Linked DNA regions of Homo sapiens. The protein of the gene in region 1 interacts with the protein of each later gene in a pairwise test. Each region holds a gene or a part of one and is shown on either strand. Other genes may lie near its edges.

Region 1 (8,915 bases):
GTGGGAATGCAGCTAGCTTGGATGTCTGAAACTTTGTAGGCGCCTCTGTCTGAATCCTGAACACAGGCACCAGGACTACTGAGAGCTCGTCATCTGTGCAGGATAGCCACACAGCAAACATGTTTGCAAAACTGAAGAAGAAAATTGCAGAAGAGACTGCTGTTGCTCAGAGGCCAGGAGGTGCTACTAGGATCCCACGGTCTGTGAGCAAGGAATCAGTTGCCTCAATGGGAGCTGACTCAGGAGATGACTTTGTAAGTACCTTTACTTAAGAAATAAAGATACTTTTGCAGGGTATTCTTCCAATAAATATTTTAAATTGCTTGATTATTTCATACCTTTCATGGTTTATAGCTGTACAAGAGCCTGTACATCTGATTCTTCTTACTCTGAGGTACCTTTTTGTTAATGTTTGGTTTGTAAATGTTAAGGTACTCTATATTTTTTTCCTTATTTTTCTGTGAGTTCCTCTCCATATTCTCTCCAGTGTCCTCTTGTACTGTTTTTCCGTCTATATACCTTATACATCTTCTTTTGCATTTCATTTCTGAAAATGTCTGGGCCTGTTTTCATTGCAGACATATATACTTATATAACAACTAAGTCATTGCTGCTTAACAAGGTCTCTGAGTTGTGGTATGGGGTTAGCAAGAGTGCATTGTTGTATTGGGACGATTGTTGGAAAGATGGCCCCAGTGATTACAGTATGTTGCTTTTTTTCTTTTTTCTTTCTTTTTTTTTTTTTTTTGAGATGGATTCTCGCTCTGTAGCCCAAAGTGGAGTGCAGTGGCCTGATCTTGGTTCACCACAACCTCTGCCTCTGGGGCTCAAGCAATTCTCGTGCCTCAGCCTCCCGAGTAGCTGGGACTACAGGTGTGTTCCACCATGCCTGGCTAATTTTTTGTATTTTAGTAGAGACAGGTTTTTACCATGTTGCCCAGGGTGGTCTCAAACTCCTGAGCTCAGGCGATCCGCCCACCTTGGCCTCCCAAAGTGCTGGGATTACAGGCGTGAGCCACCATGCCCAGCCTACAATATGTTTCTTATTAGTAAAATACATTTGTGACTATAAGATTTCAAAAAATGAAGATGTTGCTATATGAGGGAAATGTCATGCTTAAAAAATAAAGTGTGGCTTTTGCATATGACAGGATCCTCTTAAGTTAGATAAATTTCTTTTCTCTTCTTTTTTTTTTTTTTGAGACAGAGTCTCACTCTGTCAGCCAGGCCGGAGTGCAGTGGCATGATCTCAGCTCATTGCATCCTCCACCTCCCGGGTTCAAGCAGTTCTCCTGCCTCAGCCTCCCAAGTAGCTGGGACTGCAGGTGCCCACGACCACACCCGGCTAATTTTTTTTTGTTTTTAGTTTATTGTTTTTGAGATAGGGTCTCGCTCTGTCACCTAGGGTGGAGTGCAGCAGCACAATCTCGGCTCACTGCAACCTCCATCTCCCGGGTTCAGGCGATTCTCCTGCCTCAGCCTCCTGAGTAGCTTGGGACTACAGGCACCCGCCACCACGTCCAGCTAATTTTTGTATTTTTAGTAGAGACAGAGTTTCACTGTGTTGGCCAGGCTGGTCTGGAACTCCTGACCTCGTGATCCTCCCGCGTCGGTCTCCCAAAGTGCTAGGATTACAGGGGTGAGCCACCACACTTGGCAATAAATTTCTTTAAAACTCATTTATAATGCTGGATATATATATAAAAGAATGTATGTAATATATATGTAAAGTATAAAGCATAAAGTAAATCTATCACTCATCTGAAGAGATAGAACACTATCAATTCTGTTAAGCCACTTATATGTTTCTTCCAATTTCCTCTACCCAATTTAGGATAGCATAACCACTATTCTAAATTTTGTATTTTTCATTTACTTGCTTTTTAAAATATCTTACCAGATATGTATGTATTCATAAACAATTTATTATTTAATACTGCTTGTTTTTGAAGTTATAAAAGTTGCACACTGTAGACTTCTTGGATTTCCTTTTTTAAAATTTAATTCAACATGCTTATAAAATGCATCCATGTTACAGGAAGCTGTGGTTCATTTATTTTTACTGCTGTATAAGATTCCAGGCTGGACACAGAAGCTCACGCCTGTAATCCCAATGCTTTGGGAAGCTAAGGCGGAAGGACTGCTTGAGGCCAGAAGTTCAAGACCAGCTTGGGCAACATAGCAAGACTGCATATCTACAAAAGTTTTTTTTTTTTTTTTTAATTTGCCTGGTTGGTGGTGGTATGCCTGTAGTCCTAGCTTCTTGGGAGGCAGAGGCAAGAGGATCGCTTGAGCCCAGGAGTTTGGGATTGTAGTGAGCTATGATCGTGCCACTGTACTCCAGCTTAGGCAACAGAGCAAGACTCTGTCTCTAAAGATTTTTTTTAAAAAAAAGATCCCAGCATTTGAAAAGGCCACATTTAATGTCTGTCTTCTCCTGGCGATAGACATTTGAATTGTTTCCGTTGTCAGATGAGTCTTCCTCCTGCTTTCTTGTACTGCCTGGATCCCAGGTCAGATTACATGGCAGAAGTTATTAGGTTATCGGGATGGAGCAATAAGATTACCAGATCTACATTATCACTGGCTCCTATATTTAAGAGGAAATATAAGCACACATTTGAGCATCGGGCTGAAGGATGTAGTTTTAAGGCTGGGTTCTGTGACAGATGGACCTGTTTTGCCTTCATGCTGACACCCTAAATGAAGTCTTTTATTTAGTAATGTATTCCAAATACAGAGATTGACCCAGATTCAGGAAGTAATTTATTTTGGGGTTTCTCAAGTTTTGAACTTAATACAGCCTGATCCTCAGTTCCTATCTCCAGACCCTTATATCCAACTGCATATGTTTCTCCAAACAGATCCCTCCTCTGTGGCATCTCAAATTCTAAATGAACAAAATTGAATTCATTATTTCCATCTCCAAATGTGCACCTTCATCTTCCCAAGTCACCAGCCAGAAACCCTGGAGGTATTTTAGGCTCTTCCCTCCTTTCACTTCTTGGTGTCCAATCAGTCAACACGTATTATGGCTTCTATTTCTTTCTTTTTTTTTTTTTTTTTTGGAGACAGAGTCTTGCTGTGTCGCCCAGGCTGGACCCTGGGTTCAAGCAATTCTCCTGCCTCACTCAGCCTCCCAAGTAGCTGGGACTACAGGCACACACCGCCACACTTGGCTAGTTTTTTGTATTTTTAGTAGAGATGAGGTTTCACCGTGTGCCCAGTCTGGTCTTGAACTCCTGAGTTCAGGCAATCCTCTTGCCTTGGCCTCCCAAAGTGCTAGGATTACAGGCAGCTTTCATTTCTTAAATGTCTCAAACTTGCCTCCCTACTCCATCTTCTAGTAGTACATTTACTAGCAGAGGTTAAGCATCCCTAATCTGAAAATTTGAAATCTGAAATACTCCAAAATCTTAAACTTTTTGAGCGCCAACATGGCCACAAGTGGAAAATTTACACATAAATACTTAACACAACTTTGTTTAATGCATATCATTTAAAATATTGTATAAAATTATGTTCAGGCTATGTGTATAAAACGTATATGGAACATAATTTCACGTTTACACTTGGGTCCCATCCCCAAAATATTATATTATGTATATGCAGACATTCCAAAATCTGAAAAAATCCAAACTCCAAAACACTTCTGATCCTAAACTGTTTGGGCAAGAGATACTCAACCTATACTATCATTTGATTTCAAGCTGCCTTTCTTTCTGGGACAAACTTGTAGTCTATCTGGGTTCCCTGTCCCCAAAGTGACCTTTTTTTTTCTTTGAGACAGGGATCTCTTTCTGGCACCCAGGCTGGAGTGCAGTGGCCCGATCACAGCCCACTGCAGCCTTAACCTCCTGGGCTCAAGCGATTCTCCCATTTCAGCCTCGTGAGTAGTTGGGACTACAGGCACGTGCCGCCACACCCAGCTAATTTTTGTATTTTTTGTAGCGACGGAGTTTTGCCATGTTGCTTAGGCTGGTCTCGAACTCCTGGGCTCAAACGATCTGCCCACCTTGGCCTCCCAAAGTACTGGGACTGCAGGTGCTAGCCACTGTGCACAGCCCAAAGTGATCTTTCTAAAAGCAGATCTGTTCATGTCTCTCCAGTACTTAAAACTCATAAAACTCAGTGGCTTCCCCATTATTTTCAGGATGAAGTACAGACTCATTATTATAGCATAATGGTAAACTGTCATGGTCTTCTCTCAGCTTATATGGCCAGCATTATCTCACTGTACTTTGCTACACCCTGTGCCACAGCCAGACTGAATTTATTGCACTTTCTAGAATGGACCACATTCTTTCATGCTTACAATTTTTGCACATGCTATTTCCTCTCTCTAGAATGTCTCATTTCCCCTTTCACTCCTGCATTCCTCTGACAGACTCTTGTGCATCTTAAGACTCAGCTCATGTGTTACTTCCAGCAAACTCCCTTGACCTGACCTTCTCCTCTGGCAGCCCCCTACCCTTTACCCCTCCTGGCTGTTTGGTGCCTTGTCTTCTGCTAACCTCTGTAATAGCACCTGCTGTACTGCATTATTATTGATGATTTGCTTGTTTGTCTCTTCCACTGAACTGGGAGTTTCATGAAAGACAATAAAGTGTAGCCCTTAGGAACTCAGGTCAGGTTATAGAGTCATATCTGCTCTATTATTATTATGTGACTTTGGGCAAATTTCTTCATTTTTCCTTGCCTTATTTTTCACATCTATAAAATGGGGATAGGAACTGTATCTACCTTTATTAAAGTATGTGTGTCAAGGATCCCCAAGATCATCCCCAGATTTAATTATTCACTAGGAGGACTCACAAGACTCACCATATAGTTTTACTCACTGCTATCATTTATTACAGTGAAAGGATCTAAAACAGACTCAGCAAAGGGAAAAGGTGCATGGGGAAAAGCTTGGAGGAAACAGGTGCAAGCTTCCAAGATTCTTCTCCCAGTGGAATTACATAGGACATGCTCCATTCTCCCAGCAATGAGTTGTGACAACACATGTAAAATGTCTACCAGGGAAGCTCATTAGAGACTCAGTGTCCAGGCTTTTTATTGGGGACTGGTCATGTGAACACCCTCTGCCTACTATGTATCAAAATTCCAGAATCCAGGCCAGGCAGGGTGGCTCACACCTGTAATCCCAGCACTTTGGGGGACCAAGGCAGATGGATCAGTTGAGGTCAGGAATTTGAGACCAGCCTGGCCAACATGGCGAAACCCTGTCTCTACTAAAAATACAAATATTAGCTGAGCATGGTGACACACACCTGTAGTCCCAGCTACTCAGGAGGCAGGAGAATCTCTTGAACCCAAGAGGCAGAGGTTACAGTGAGCCAACATTGTACCACTGCACTCCAGCCTGGGTGACAGAGCGAGACTCTGTCTAAATAAATAAATAAATAAATAAATAATCCAGACTCCAGAAGGAAACCAGGTATTCAGCATAAACCCATATTTTTGCACAAACATTTTAGGCACAATGAGCCATTCTTAACAGAATGATGGGAACCCTCCCAAAATCTAAGTTCCCAGATGCCAGCCAAGGACCAACCTTAAAAGCAGGCCTTTCTAAGGATAACAGTCTGAGGCCTGTAATGTCAGTTCTTCTGCGTAGAATCTAAAGCACTTAGCATGGCGTCTGGCTCTAAGCATTTCATAATTAGCTTCTGTTGCTGCTGCTGCTGTTATTTTGGATAGGAGCTCTTTGTTTCACCACTATTCCTAGTGCTTAGCACAGTAGTGAGACATAGGATGTCTCCTATGTCTCACTAACAGTAATAATCATAACAGCTTCTTATACTGCTAGTGGTGTGGTCTGAATGTATGTCTCCAAAAATTGATATGTTGAAACCTAATCACTAGAGTGATGGAATGAGGAGGTGAATCGTCTCCGAGATGATTAGCTCATGAGGGAGGAACCCTCATGAATGAGATTAGTGCTCTTACAAAAGAGGCCCCAGAAAGCTGCCTTGCCCCTTCCACCATGTGAGGGCACAGCTAGAAGGTGTCATGTATGAACCAGAAAGTGGGTCTTCACTAGACACCAAATCTGCTGGCACCTTAATTTTGGACTTCCTAGGCTCCAGAACTGTGAGAAATACATTTCTGTTGTTTATAAGTCACACATTCTATGGCATTTCATTATAGCACTCAAACAGACTAAGACAACTAGTAATAGATGACACATATTAAAGCTAATATGTGCCAGGCTGTGTTTTAGGGATTTGACAAGTATTGATTTACTTAATCCTCATCACAGCTCTGTGAGGCAAATGCTGTTTGTTATCACAGATTGCAAATGAGGAAACCAGTGCACAGAGAAGTTGAGTAATGAGCCTAAGTTCTTACAGCTCGTAAGTGGTAAAGCTGCAACCTGAAGCAAGGTTTTCTGACACCAGAGACTCTCCTCTTAACTGTCCACTGTCCTGACTCTCAGTACATATTGGATGGGCAAGTGGCTGGACATGTAGATGAATATTTGAGGTGAATTATTGAATAATCTTTAAAAACATTTTGGGGATACAATGGGAAACATGATTAAGGACTGGATGTTAGTATTTTTTGTTAGGAATGATAATCATATGTTGCCTATGAAGAGAAATAGCCTTAATTTTTGGAGTATTTAGGATGAAATGCCATGATGTCTGTTATTTAAATTACTTCAGAAAAATAAAAATTGATGAAGCAAATAAGGGAAAGCATCAGCAATTGTGAAAGTAGATGGAGAGCATTATTTAGACCAATCTCTCTCCCTTTCTATATTTTGAAAAATTGTATAATGAAAAGTAAAAGAGATTTTAAAAACTGAGTTATTAGCAATTGCAAGCAGTGCCTATAGCAATAGTAGTATTCATTTATTTTAAAATAATCTGGTTTGTTGGGGAAAAATGTATGCCTCATTAATATATTGGTTTGTTGAATGCATATTATCTGCTGAAGTCTATGATGCAAGTTAGAGTTTTAGATTGATATCCGTTTGTTTCATAGATGAAGATACTGAAACTTTATCAATATCGGTGAAAGATTCGTAGTCATAGACCAGCTTTTGATCCCTAAAGAACCCCCGCCTTCTTTATCCCAGGACTTTACTTTTGGAAAGATAAAGTGATTTTTTTATCATGGCAAATATAGTTTTTGTATTATATACTTGCTGTAATAATGGATCTATTTACTATTATTTATTTCAGTAGCATGCGTACACATAAAATTGATCTGTTTAGCATCTCCTCTCTCCTTCACTTTATAAGAGGAAGAAAGCGTTGCTTCCACTTTCCAGGTAGAGAAACTAGGCCCAGCTTTTCAGTGATTACAATTAATTAAAGTGTAACCAAACCTAAAATAAGACTTGTCACTTTCTGGCTCAGTATTGTGGTCTCACACATATATGAATACGACCTTCCTTGTGTCTACCTCAACAGGCTTCCGATGGAAGCAGCTCCAGAGAAGATCTTTCATCCCAGCTTCTGAGAAGGAATGAACAGATACGGAAGTTAGAGGCCAGACTTTCTGGTATGTCTAAGAACTCATAAAAAGCAAACAACAGGAAACTTGCCTTGCTTGACTCTCTTCCTATAAAATAGCCATATAGGATGACTTTATAGTTATTTTCACATATCATTTTGATCTTTTTAGAAAGGAGCAAGTATACCCTCTTCTTTTGTTAGTGTAGTAAATAGTATAAATTCAAAACTGAATTTGAAAGTTTATTAAAAAATTTTTTCTGCTCCTGAGGTTTCTAGCCATGGAAATAAAAGATAATAATAATATATGTACAATAGATTTGACCATCTTCCACCATTAGCATAGCCTGCTTTCAGGTGGAAAGGGATGGCGTTAGTATTTAAAGGGAATGGCCAACAGATATTGGATTCATCAGCACCAGAGATTGGTGCTGTGTTGCCACTTCCTGCAGCTCATACCACCTGTGTAAGTGTTGTTGTAGGTCTTTGGGCCACTTTTCAATGGTATTTCTGACTTCAGCACCTGCATAGAAGGTGTCACTCTCATTATGTCTTTTGTCTGCAGTTTACAATTTACACAGCTCCCATTATATCCTTTGCCTGAGGAGGGCATGGTCATGATAGAATTGTGAGTTATTATTTTGGTTTCTGCCAGTGGATACATTTGGAAAGCTTCATCCTGTAAAGTGGTTCATGGCTTCTGTGTCTCTTTTTGTCCCTTGGCCTTTTAATGCCCATTTTATTGGAGTAAAACAGCAGACCGAAGTTCACCAAGTGGTATGTGAAATATTTATATTTGTGTAGCTATCAGACCCAAATTCACCAAATTGTATGTGAAGTATTTGTATTTATGTAGTTATCAAAGGTTCATAGCATAGCTCACAACTACCAGTTAATTATTTTGTCCTCACTAGAGCCTTATTAGGCTTAGCAAGGTTAAGGCCTCACAAGTAGTAAGTGGTAGAGCTGGGATCCAAACCCAGATTTATTTGATGCTAGAGTCTTAATTCCATCTGCCTTAAACTTAATTGTTGCTATCCTGTTACTCCTACCCATAAATAATATCAGTAACAGAGGTAAAGTAATTTTACATTTGTTTAATGTTGGAGAGAGAGTTATAAAATAATATATATACCTTCCCCATATGGTAGGAAGAATAGTTGAGCTTGACTTACGTTAGAGAAGGGACAGGGAAGAGCACTGACATTTACTGGGCCCACTATGTGGTGAGTATTGTCCTACAGTATTAGTATGAGTAATGATAATAGTCACAGTAACAATAAGAGCTACATTTTATTGAGCACTGTGTGCAAAGCACTTAAGGCACGTAAAATGTTTTATCTAATGCATCTTTTGTGGTAGGTACAATTAATATCATCATTTAATATATGAAGAAACTAATACTACAGGACCAATAATTTGCTTAAGGTCCCCAGCTAAGGACTGACA
Region 2 (8,127 bases), on another chromosome or scaffold:
TTGGGAAAAACTATTTACAAGCAATACACTTGACATGGCATTACTACTTAAAATATATACAGAACTCAAATAACAGTAGTAAGAAAACAACCCAATTTTAAAATTAGCAAAGATAATCCCAGCAGTTTGGAAGGCTGAGGAGGGAGGATCACTTGAGGCCAGGAGTTCAAGACCAGCTGGAGCAACATGGGGAAACCCTGTAAAAATACAAACATTAGCTGGGCCTGGTGGAGCAAGCCTGTAGTCTCAGCTACTCAGGAGGCTGAGGCATGAGAATTACTTGAACCCAGGAGGTGGAGGTTGCAGTGAGCCAAGATTGTGCCACTGCATTCCAGCTTGGGTGATAGAGCAAGAATCTCTCTGTCTCAAAAAAAATAAAATAAAATAAAAGGGAATACTATGCAGCCATAAAAAAGGATGAGTTCATGTCCTCTGTAGGGACATGGATGAAGCTGGAAACCATCATTCTCAGCAAACTGTCACAGGGACAAAAAACCAAACACCACATGTTCTCACTCATAGGTGGGAATTGAACAATGAGAACACTTGGACACGGGAAGGGGAACATCACACACCGGGGCCTGTCATGGGCTTGGGGGAGGGGGGAGGGATAGCATTAGGAGATATACCTAATGTAAATGACGAGTTAATGGGTGCAGCACACAAACATGGCACATGTATGCATATGTAACAAACCTGCACATTGTGCACATGTACCCTAGAACTTAAAGTATAATAAAAAAAAGAAAAAAGGAAGTTCATCTGATGGTCTTGAATGCTTCTGTAGAAAAAGAAACCAAACTGTATTTGTGTATGATGTGAATTGGTTTTGCCCAATACAGTCTTCAGCAAATTTTCCATGACTTAGGAGATACTTCCTTAATATTCTCTATATGTATTCTAAATTGATATTTTATTAAAATTTTGAGTGGAGCATATAATCCCATTAGTGCTGGGAAGCAGGAAAAAGTAGGTCACTTTGCTTTATTCTTCAAAACCAATTAACTGTAGAGTTCATGAACAATTGAATACTTGGAAGTGCTACATCTTAATGAATTTTCCAAATACATATTAAAGTGTACAACCATGTTAATTTTCTTTTCTTTTCTTTTTGTGTAGGATCCCAATGAAGATACAGAATGGAATGACATTTTAAGAGATTTCGGCATTCTTCCTCCTAAAGAAGAGTCAAAAGATGAAATTGAAGAAATGGTTTTACGTTTACAGAAAGAAGCAATGGGTATGGTCGTAGATTTGGTGGGCTGGATGATGGGAATAATACAGTTAAGTTAGTACTAAGGTATTTCATGAACATAGTGGGAGAGAGGACATTAGAAATCATTTAGTATAGGCTGGGCATGGTGGCTCACACCTGTAATCCCAGCACTTTGGGAGGCTGAGGCCAGCGGATCACGAGGTCAGGAGATCGAGACCATCCTGGCTAACACGGTGAAACCCCATCTCTACTAAAAATACAAAAACAAAATTAGCCAGGTGTGGTGGTGGGTGCCTGTAGTCCCAGCTACTCAGGAGGCTGAGGCAGTAGAATGGCATGAACCTAGGAGATGGAGCTTGCAGTGAGCTGAGATCGTGCCACTGCACTCCTGCACTGCTCTGGGCAACAGAGCAAGACTCCATCTCAAAAAACAAAACAAATAAACATTTAATATAACCCCCCTCAACTACTTTCAGTATTTGGATATGACACCTAAAATGACTAATTTCACATGTTGAAAATCACATGCTAATAACAGAGCTGAAATATCCTGGTGTGTAACCAAGTGAGCTTTCTTCTCCCACCATGTCCCTCTGCCTTATTACCATCTATTTTGATCATTCTTTATAGTATGTATTATTTATCAAGATTTCTAGGTACTTGAGGGAAATCTAAATTTATGAAATCTAATTGATTTTCATACCTAGTTTTAAATGTAGCCTGTCAGTTCTATGAACTTTGAGGGAGTAATACTTTAATATTATACTTTCTATAATATTTATAGCTTTTTTTGGTGGCTGGCTGCTTTATGTTTGTTTAAAGATACTCTTTTTTGTTTGTTTTTTTGAGACCAAGTCTAACTTTGTTGGCCAGGGTGGAATGCAGTGGTGCGATCTCAGCTCACTGCAAACTCAGCCATTCGGGTTCAAGTGATTCTCCTGCCTCAGCCTCCCGAGTAGCTAGGATTACAGGTGCCTGCCACCACACCTGACTAATTTTTGTATTTTTAGTAGAGATAGGGTTTCACCATGTTGGCCAGGTTGGTCTTGAACTCCTGACCTAAAGTGATCCACCCACCTCGACCTATCAAAGTACTGGGATTCCATCGCACCCGGCTGTTTAAAGATACTGTTGATCTCCTTTGTATAAGACGGTTTTTTTCTAGACATTGACTGTATAGTAAAAAAATTTTTAAACAATTTGATAATCTATAATTTATGTTGTTTTAGTGAAACCATTTGAAAAGATGACTCTTGCACAGCTAAAGGAAGCTGAAGATGAATTTGATGAAGAAGATATGCAGGCTGTTGAAACATATAGGTACAGTGATTCATTTGGGTTAATTATAAATTTTTGAATGAAGTATAATAAGAATAAAACTAAAGAGATTTGTCTTGTCACATAGATTTTACAAAGAACAAAACTAATTTTTAAGTAACATTTTGAAACTCCCTTTATATAAGGTGGAATTTTATTACATCATTACATCATTTTTTCTTAATATTTTGCCTTTGATTTAATAGAAAATTATCCAATCATGTACAATATAACTTCATCAAGCTACATACGATTAAAGTGGAAAATAGCAATAAGAGGCCAATAAAAAGATGGCCATGATTTTCCTTCTAGCATGATGTCTGTCAAAGGTGACTATCATTTCATGAATAATTAATTACTATTCTTAAATTATTTTAGAAACTGGAACAGGTTCATAAATTTCCCAACTTACTTCACAACTAAAATAAGTTGGGAAATGTATGAACCTGTTCTAATTTCTAAAGTACTTTTTACAAGACCAGTATTTATCCTGATACTAAAACCAGACAAAGACATCACTAAAACAGAGTACTACAAATATCCCTCATGACTGTAAACACAAAATCTTTAAGGAAATATTGGCAAATTAAGTCCAGCAATTTAAGGAAATAATAAATCTTGATCAAGTAGTATTGATTGCAGGAATGCAAGATCATTTTAACAATAAAAAAACAGTGGACCAGGCACAGTGGCTCATGCTTGTAATCCTAGCACTTTGGGAGGCTGAGGCAGACGGATCACCTGAGGTCGGGAGTTTGAGACCAGCCTGACCAACATGCAGAAACCCCGTCTCTACTAAAAATACAAAGTTAGCCAGGCATGGTGGTGCTTGCCTGTAATCCCAGCTACTCTGGAGGCTGAGGCAGGAGAATCGCTTGAACCCGGTGGGGCAGAGGTTGTGGTGAGCCAAGATTGCGCCATTGCACTCCAGCCTGGGCAACAAGAGCGAAACTCCACCTCGAAAAAAAAAACAAACAAAAAACCAGTGAATTGGGGCTGGGCACAGTGGCTCATGCCTGTAATCTCAGACTTTGGGAGGCTATGGTGGGAGGATTGCTTGAGGCTAGGAGTTACAGACCAGCCTGGTCAACATAGTAAGACCCTGTCTCTACAAAACAAAAATAAAAACCAAAAGCCACCAGTGAATGGAGTTACAACAGCCATACTCCAGGAGCAATGAGCACATATAGCACTCAGATCTTTCTGAGGCAGGGTGCGGTGACCCACACCTGTAATTCCAGCACTTTGGAAGGCCAAGGCGGGTGGATCACCTGAGGTCAGGAGTTTGAAACCAGCCTGGCAAACATGATGAAACCCGTGTCTTTAAATTAGCCAGGCGTTGTAGCACATGCCTGTAATCCCAGCTACTTGAGAAGCTGAGGCAGGAGAATCGCTGAACCTGGGAGGTGGAGGTTGCAGTGAGCCAAGATCGTGCCATTGCACTCCAGCCTGGGCAACAAGAGTGAAACTCCATCTCAAACAAACAAACAAACAAACAAAAAACAAATAAATACTATTCTCTAATAACAGGAATTAGTGCTCCTTAGCGAACTGCTTGATCCCACGGTGTGTGTTAGGAAAGTATAATATGAATATGAAGCATCTTATGTTGCCAGTAGGTAAGGAAGTACTTAAAAAAAAAAAAAGTCCCAGGAGTCAAATGGACAGATCTCCCAAGGGCCAAAGTTAGAACAACTTGAACAACAAAATCAATAATTATATGATAGGATTGTAAAGCAAATAATGAAATAAATTTATAAAAGTCCATAGTGATATAAATAAATAACTTAATACATGAACAAATTTGGAAGAAGTAATCTCTCTCCCTTACAGAAGAGTTTTAATTAATAAGTGTAAATGAAATTAGAGAAATAGAAAAATCACCATCAGAACAGTGGTAATTTCCTATGGGTAAGATCCAGTGATGGATGCTAAAATGATTGGTTGAAAGTTTAAACACAAACAGGATATTGCATAATTTCAAAGAATTCTTCCCCAAATATTTAGTAATTATAAAGGAGGAAATAGTAAGTTTATAGGCAGATACTATCTTAGGCAGATGATCAAGGTTAATATCACCAGTAAAATATGCTGGGAGGTGATCAAGTAACCCCTGGTATGTTGTACTGAGAAGGACATATCACCTCTGTGGTATCATTTTCAGTAATGCATAACTTTAATTATAAGAAAACTTCAAATAAACCCTAATTGAAGAACTCATTAAAAAAAAAAACCCACTGATGACACATCAGGGAAAATAGCAGAATAGGGAACTCCAAAAATACATCTCTACCTAATCAAAGATTGTACTAGCAGGAACTGTCTGAAGTGACTGTTTTAGTACTCTGGAGAATATTGAATGCTTGTAGTTTCCAAGTGAAAACTTGGCTGGTAAATGGCAGTATCAGTTGATTTCAGCCCTCAGTTCAGTAGCAGCTGTTCATGCTCAACCCCTAGCTCCATGACAGGCAGCTGACAACCTGTATTTCTGACACAGCTTGCTGGAGCCAGGGTGGACAATAAGGACCTTTTCCTCCAAATATTGGGGTTCTGTGTTCTTATTACAGATTGCTCCTTCTGAACATGGATGTACAGGGACAGAGGCTCACTGCCATTGTGTGAACTCCCACTGGCTCAGGCAGCTATCAGAGAATTTAAAAGAGCTATAACCTTTTTTAAAGATTCAAAACAAACTGTGCTTTTGGGAAAATATAGAAAGCCAGTGCATTTACTCCGGGGAAGATGCAGGCTCAAAAAATACCTGAGAAGACCTTAAAGCTTCTACCTCAGAATGATCGCCAGCACAAAGACAGCCTACAACAATTAAAACAAAAACAAAAACAAAACCCCAGCAAAGGAGGAGAACTTATTTCCAAAGTTACCACATTATAGGATTCAAATATCTAGTTTTCAACAAAAATCACAAGGCATACACAAACAAGAAAGTATAGTCCATTCAAAGGAACAAAATATACTGACAGAAAATGTACTTGAGGAAGCCCAGAAGTCAGACTTACTAGACAAAGACTTTAAGACAACTATCTTACGGATGCTTAAAGAGCTAAAAAGATAGGAATATAATGTATGATCAAAAAGAGAATATCAATAAAGAAATAGAAGTTATAAACAGGAATAAAAGATATTCTGGAACTGTGATAATGAGAAATATATATCTGATCTTTGTCCCCAGTTCCTGACACAAACATACTTGGAATTTGCTAGGTGATAAAAGTACCTTTGGTATGCTTATGAGATGATCCTTGGTGGAGGGGATCCTAGTAGCTTTAGGATGAGGGCTGGTTGCCAGAGGAACCAACCATGTGATTAGAAGGTTAGAACTTTTAACACTATTCCCTGCTCTCTGGAGAGGGGAGAGGGGCTAGAGATTGAGTTAATCACCAGTGGCCAACGATTTAGTCAATCATGCCTATCTAATGAAACCTCCATAAAAACCACTAAATGATGGTGCTGTGGTCTGAATGTTTGTGTCCCCCCCAAATTCATATGTTGAAACCTAATCCCCTCCCAATGTGATGGCATTAAGAGGTGGAGCCTTAGGGAGGTAATTAGGTCATGAGGGCTACCCCTTTATGAACGGGATTAATGCTCTTATAAAAGAGGCCTGAGAAGGCCAGGCACAGTGGCCCATGCCTGTAATCCCAGCACTTTGGGAGACCAAGGCAGGCGGATCACCTGAGTCAGGAGTTCGAACCAGCCTGGCCAACATGGTGAAACCCTGTTTCTACTAAAATACAAAAATTAGTTGGGTGTAGTGGCCTGTACCTGTAATCCCACCTACTCGGGAGGCTGAGGCAGGAGAATTGCTTGAATCTGGGAGGCAGAGGTTGCAGTGAGCCGAGATTGTGCCACTGCACTCCAGCCTGGGCGACAGAGCAAGACTCCGTCTCAAAAAAAAAAAAGGACTGAGAAATCTGGAACATGCTTTTTTTAAAATTTGTTTTGCCAGTCTTTGCCTTTAGTTGGAGATTAATCATATTAATTTAAAATTCACTTACATTTAAAGTAAGTACTGTTAAGAAAGGAGTTGCTTCTGCTACTTAGGTGTTTTCTGTATTTCTTACATAATTTTTGTTTTTTAAGTCTTCCATTACTGCTTTCTTTTCACAGTTAGCTGATTTTTCTAGTGTACCATTTTTATTTCCTTCTTCTTTCATTTTCTGTGTATCTTTTAGTTTTTTCATAGTGATTATCTTAAGGATAAAAATTAACGTCTTACAGTGGCCTACTTTGAATAATACCAACTTAGAGTCAATAGCATGTAAACACATCTCCATCCTTCTCCTTATTTGTTAGTGTCACAGACTACATTGTTATATATTGTGCATCCATTAACATAGATTATTATTATTGCTTTATGTATTTACCTTTTATATCATACAGGAAAAAAAGAGAAGTTAGAAACCAACTCTAGGCCAGGCATGATGGCTTACGCCTGTAATCCCAGTGCTTTGGGAGGCAGAGGTGGGCAAATCGCCTGAGTTCAGGAGTTTGAGACCAGCCTGGCCAACATGGTGAAACCCCGTCTCTAATAAAAATACAAAAAATTTAGCTGGGCATGGTGGCACACCCCTGTAATCCCAGCTACTCAGGAGGCTAGGTGTGAGAATTGCTTGAACCTGGGAGGCAGAGGTTGCAGTAAGCTAAGATCGCGCCACGGCACTCCAGCCTAGGCAACAAAGCAAGACTGTCTCAAAAAGAAAAAAAAAAGAAACCAATTCCAATAATGGCTTTTACATTTTCCTATGTAAAAGCCAAATGGTAATACTGGCTATTATATTTCCCTATGTAGTTAACTTCACCATGTTCCTCGTTTCTTCATGTGGCTTTGGATACTATCTGGTGCTCTTTCATTTCAGCCTGAAGGACTCCTTTCACATATTTTTTAGGCAGGTCTAGGTCCCTTGGTGTTTTTTTGTTTTTATTTTTATTTTTTAAATCTAGGAATGCATTAATTTACCCTCATTCTTGAAGCATAGTTTTGCCAAATATCGAATTCTTGCTTTTGACAGTTGTTTTCTCTCAGCATTTAAAAAATATCAACTCACTGCCTTTTTGGCTTCCAAAATTTCTGCTGAGAAACTGGCTGATAGTCTTATTGAAGATCCCTTGTATGTGATGACTTGCTTCTCTCTGCTTTCAAGATTCTCATTGTCTCTTCTTGCCTTTCAGTAGTTTATGATGTATCCCCATGTGGGTGTCTTTGAGTTTATCATACTTTTATCATACTTGGAGTTTGTTGGACACTTGAGTTTATAGATTAATGTATTTCATCAAATTTGGGAAGTTTTCAGCCATTATTTCTTAAAATATCCTTTATGCTTCTTTTCTCTCTCTTTTCTGTTGAGATTCACACAACATGTGTGTTGGTCTGCTTTATATCATCCCACAGACCCTTTAGGCCCTGTTTATTTTTTTTTCATTCTTTTTTTTTTCTCAGATTTGATCATTGCAGTTGTCCTATTTTCAAGGTTGCTGATTCTTCTGCTTCCTCAAATCTGCTTTTGGAACTCTCCAATGTATTTTTTTAATTTTAGTTACTGTACTTTTTAGTTCCTCTGGTATGTTTTACTCAT

What was found. Proteins that work in one complex are often made in the same cells at the same time.
Region 2: the proteins of GOLGA1 (region 1) and PDCL2 interact in a two-hybrid assay, tested with the Homo sapiens proteins (2 studies listed by BioGRID).

Annotation. Positions count from the first base shown.
Region 1 is NC_000009.12:124,929,916-124,938,830, reverse strand, and holds part of GOLGA1 (golgin subfamily A member 1), read left to right. Parts: 5' UTR 1-119; coding exon 120-254; intron 255-7,424; coding exon 7,425-7,515; intron 7,516-8,915. UniProt on the Homo sapiens protein: Involved in vesicular trafficking at the Golgi apparatus level. Involved in endosome-to-Golgi trafficking. Mechanistically, captures transport vesicles arriving from endosomes via the protein TBC1D23.
Region 2 is NC_000004.12:55,575,230-55,583,356, reverse strand, and holds part of PDCL2 (phosducin-like protein 2), read left to right. Parts: intron 1-1,119; coding exon 1,120-1,240; intron 1,241-2,445; coding exon 2,446-2,536; intron 2,537-8,127. UniProt on the Homo sapiens protein: Essential for male fertility, spermiogenesis and acrosome formation.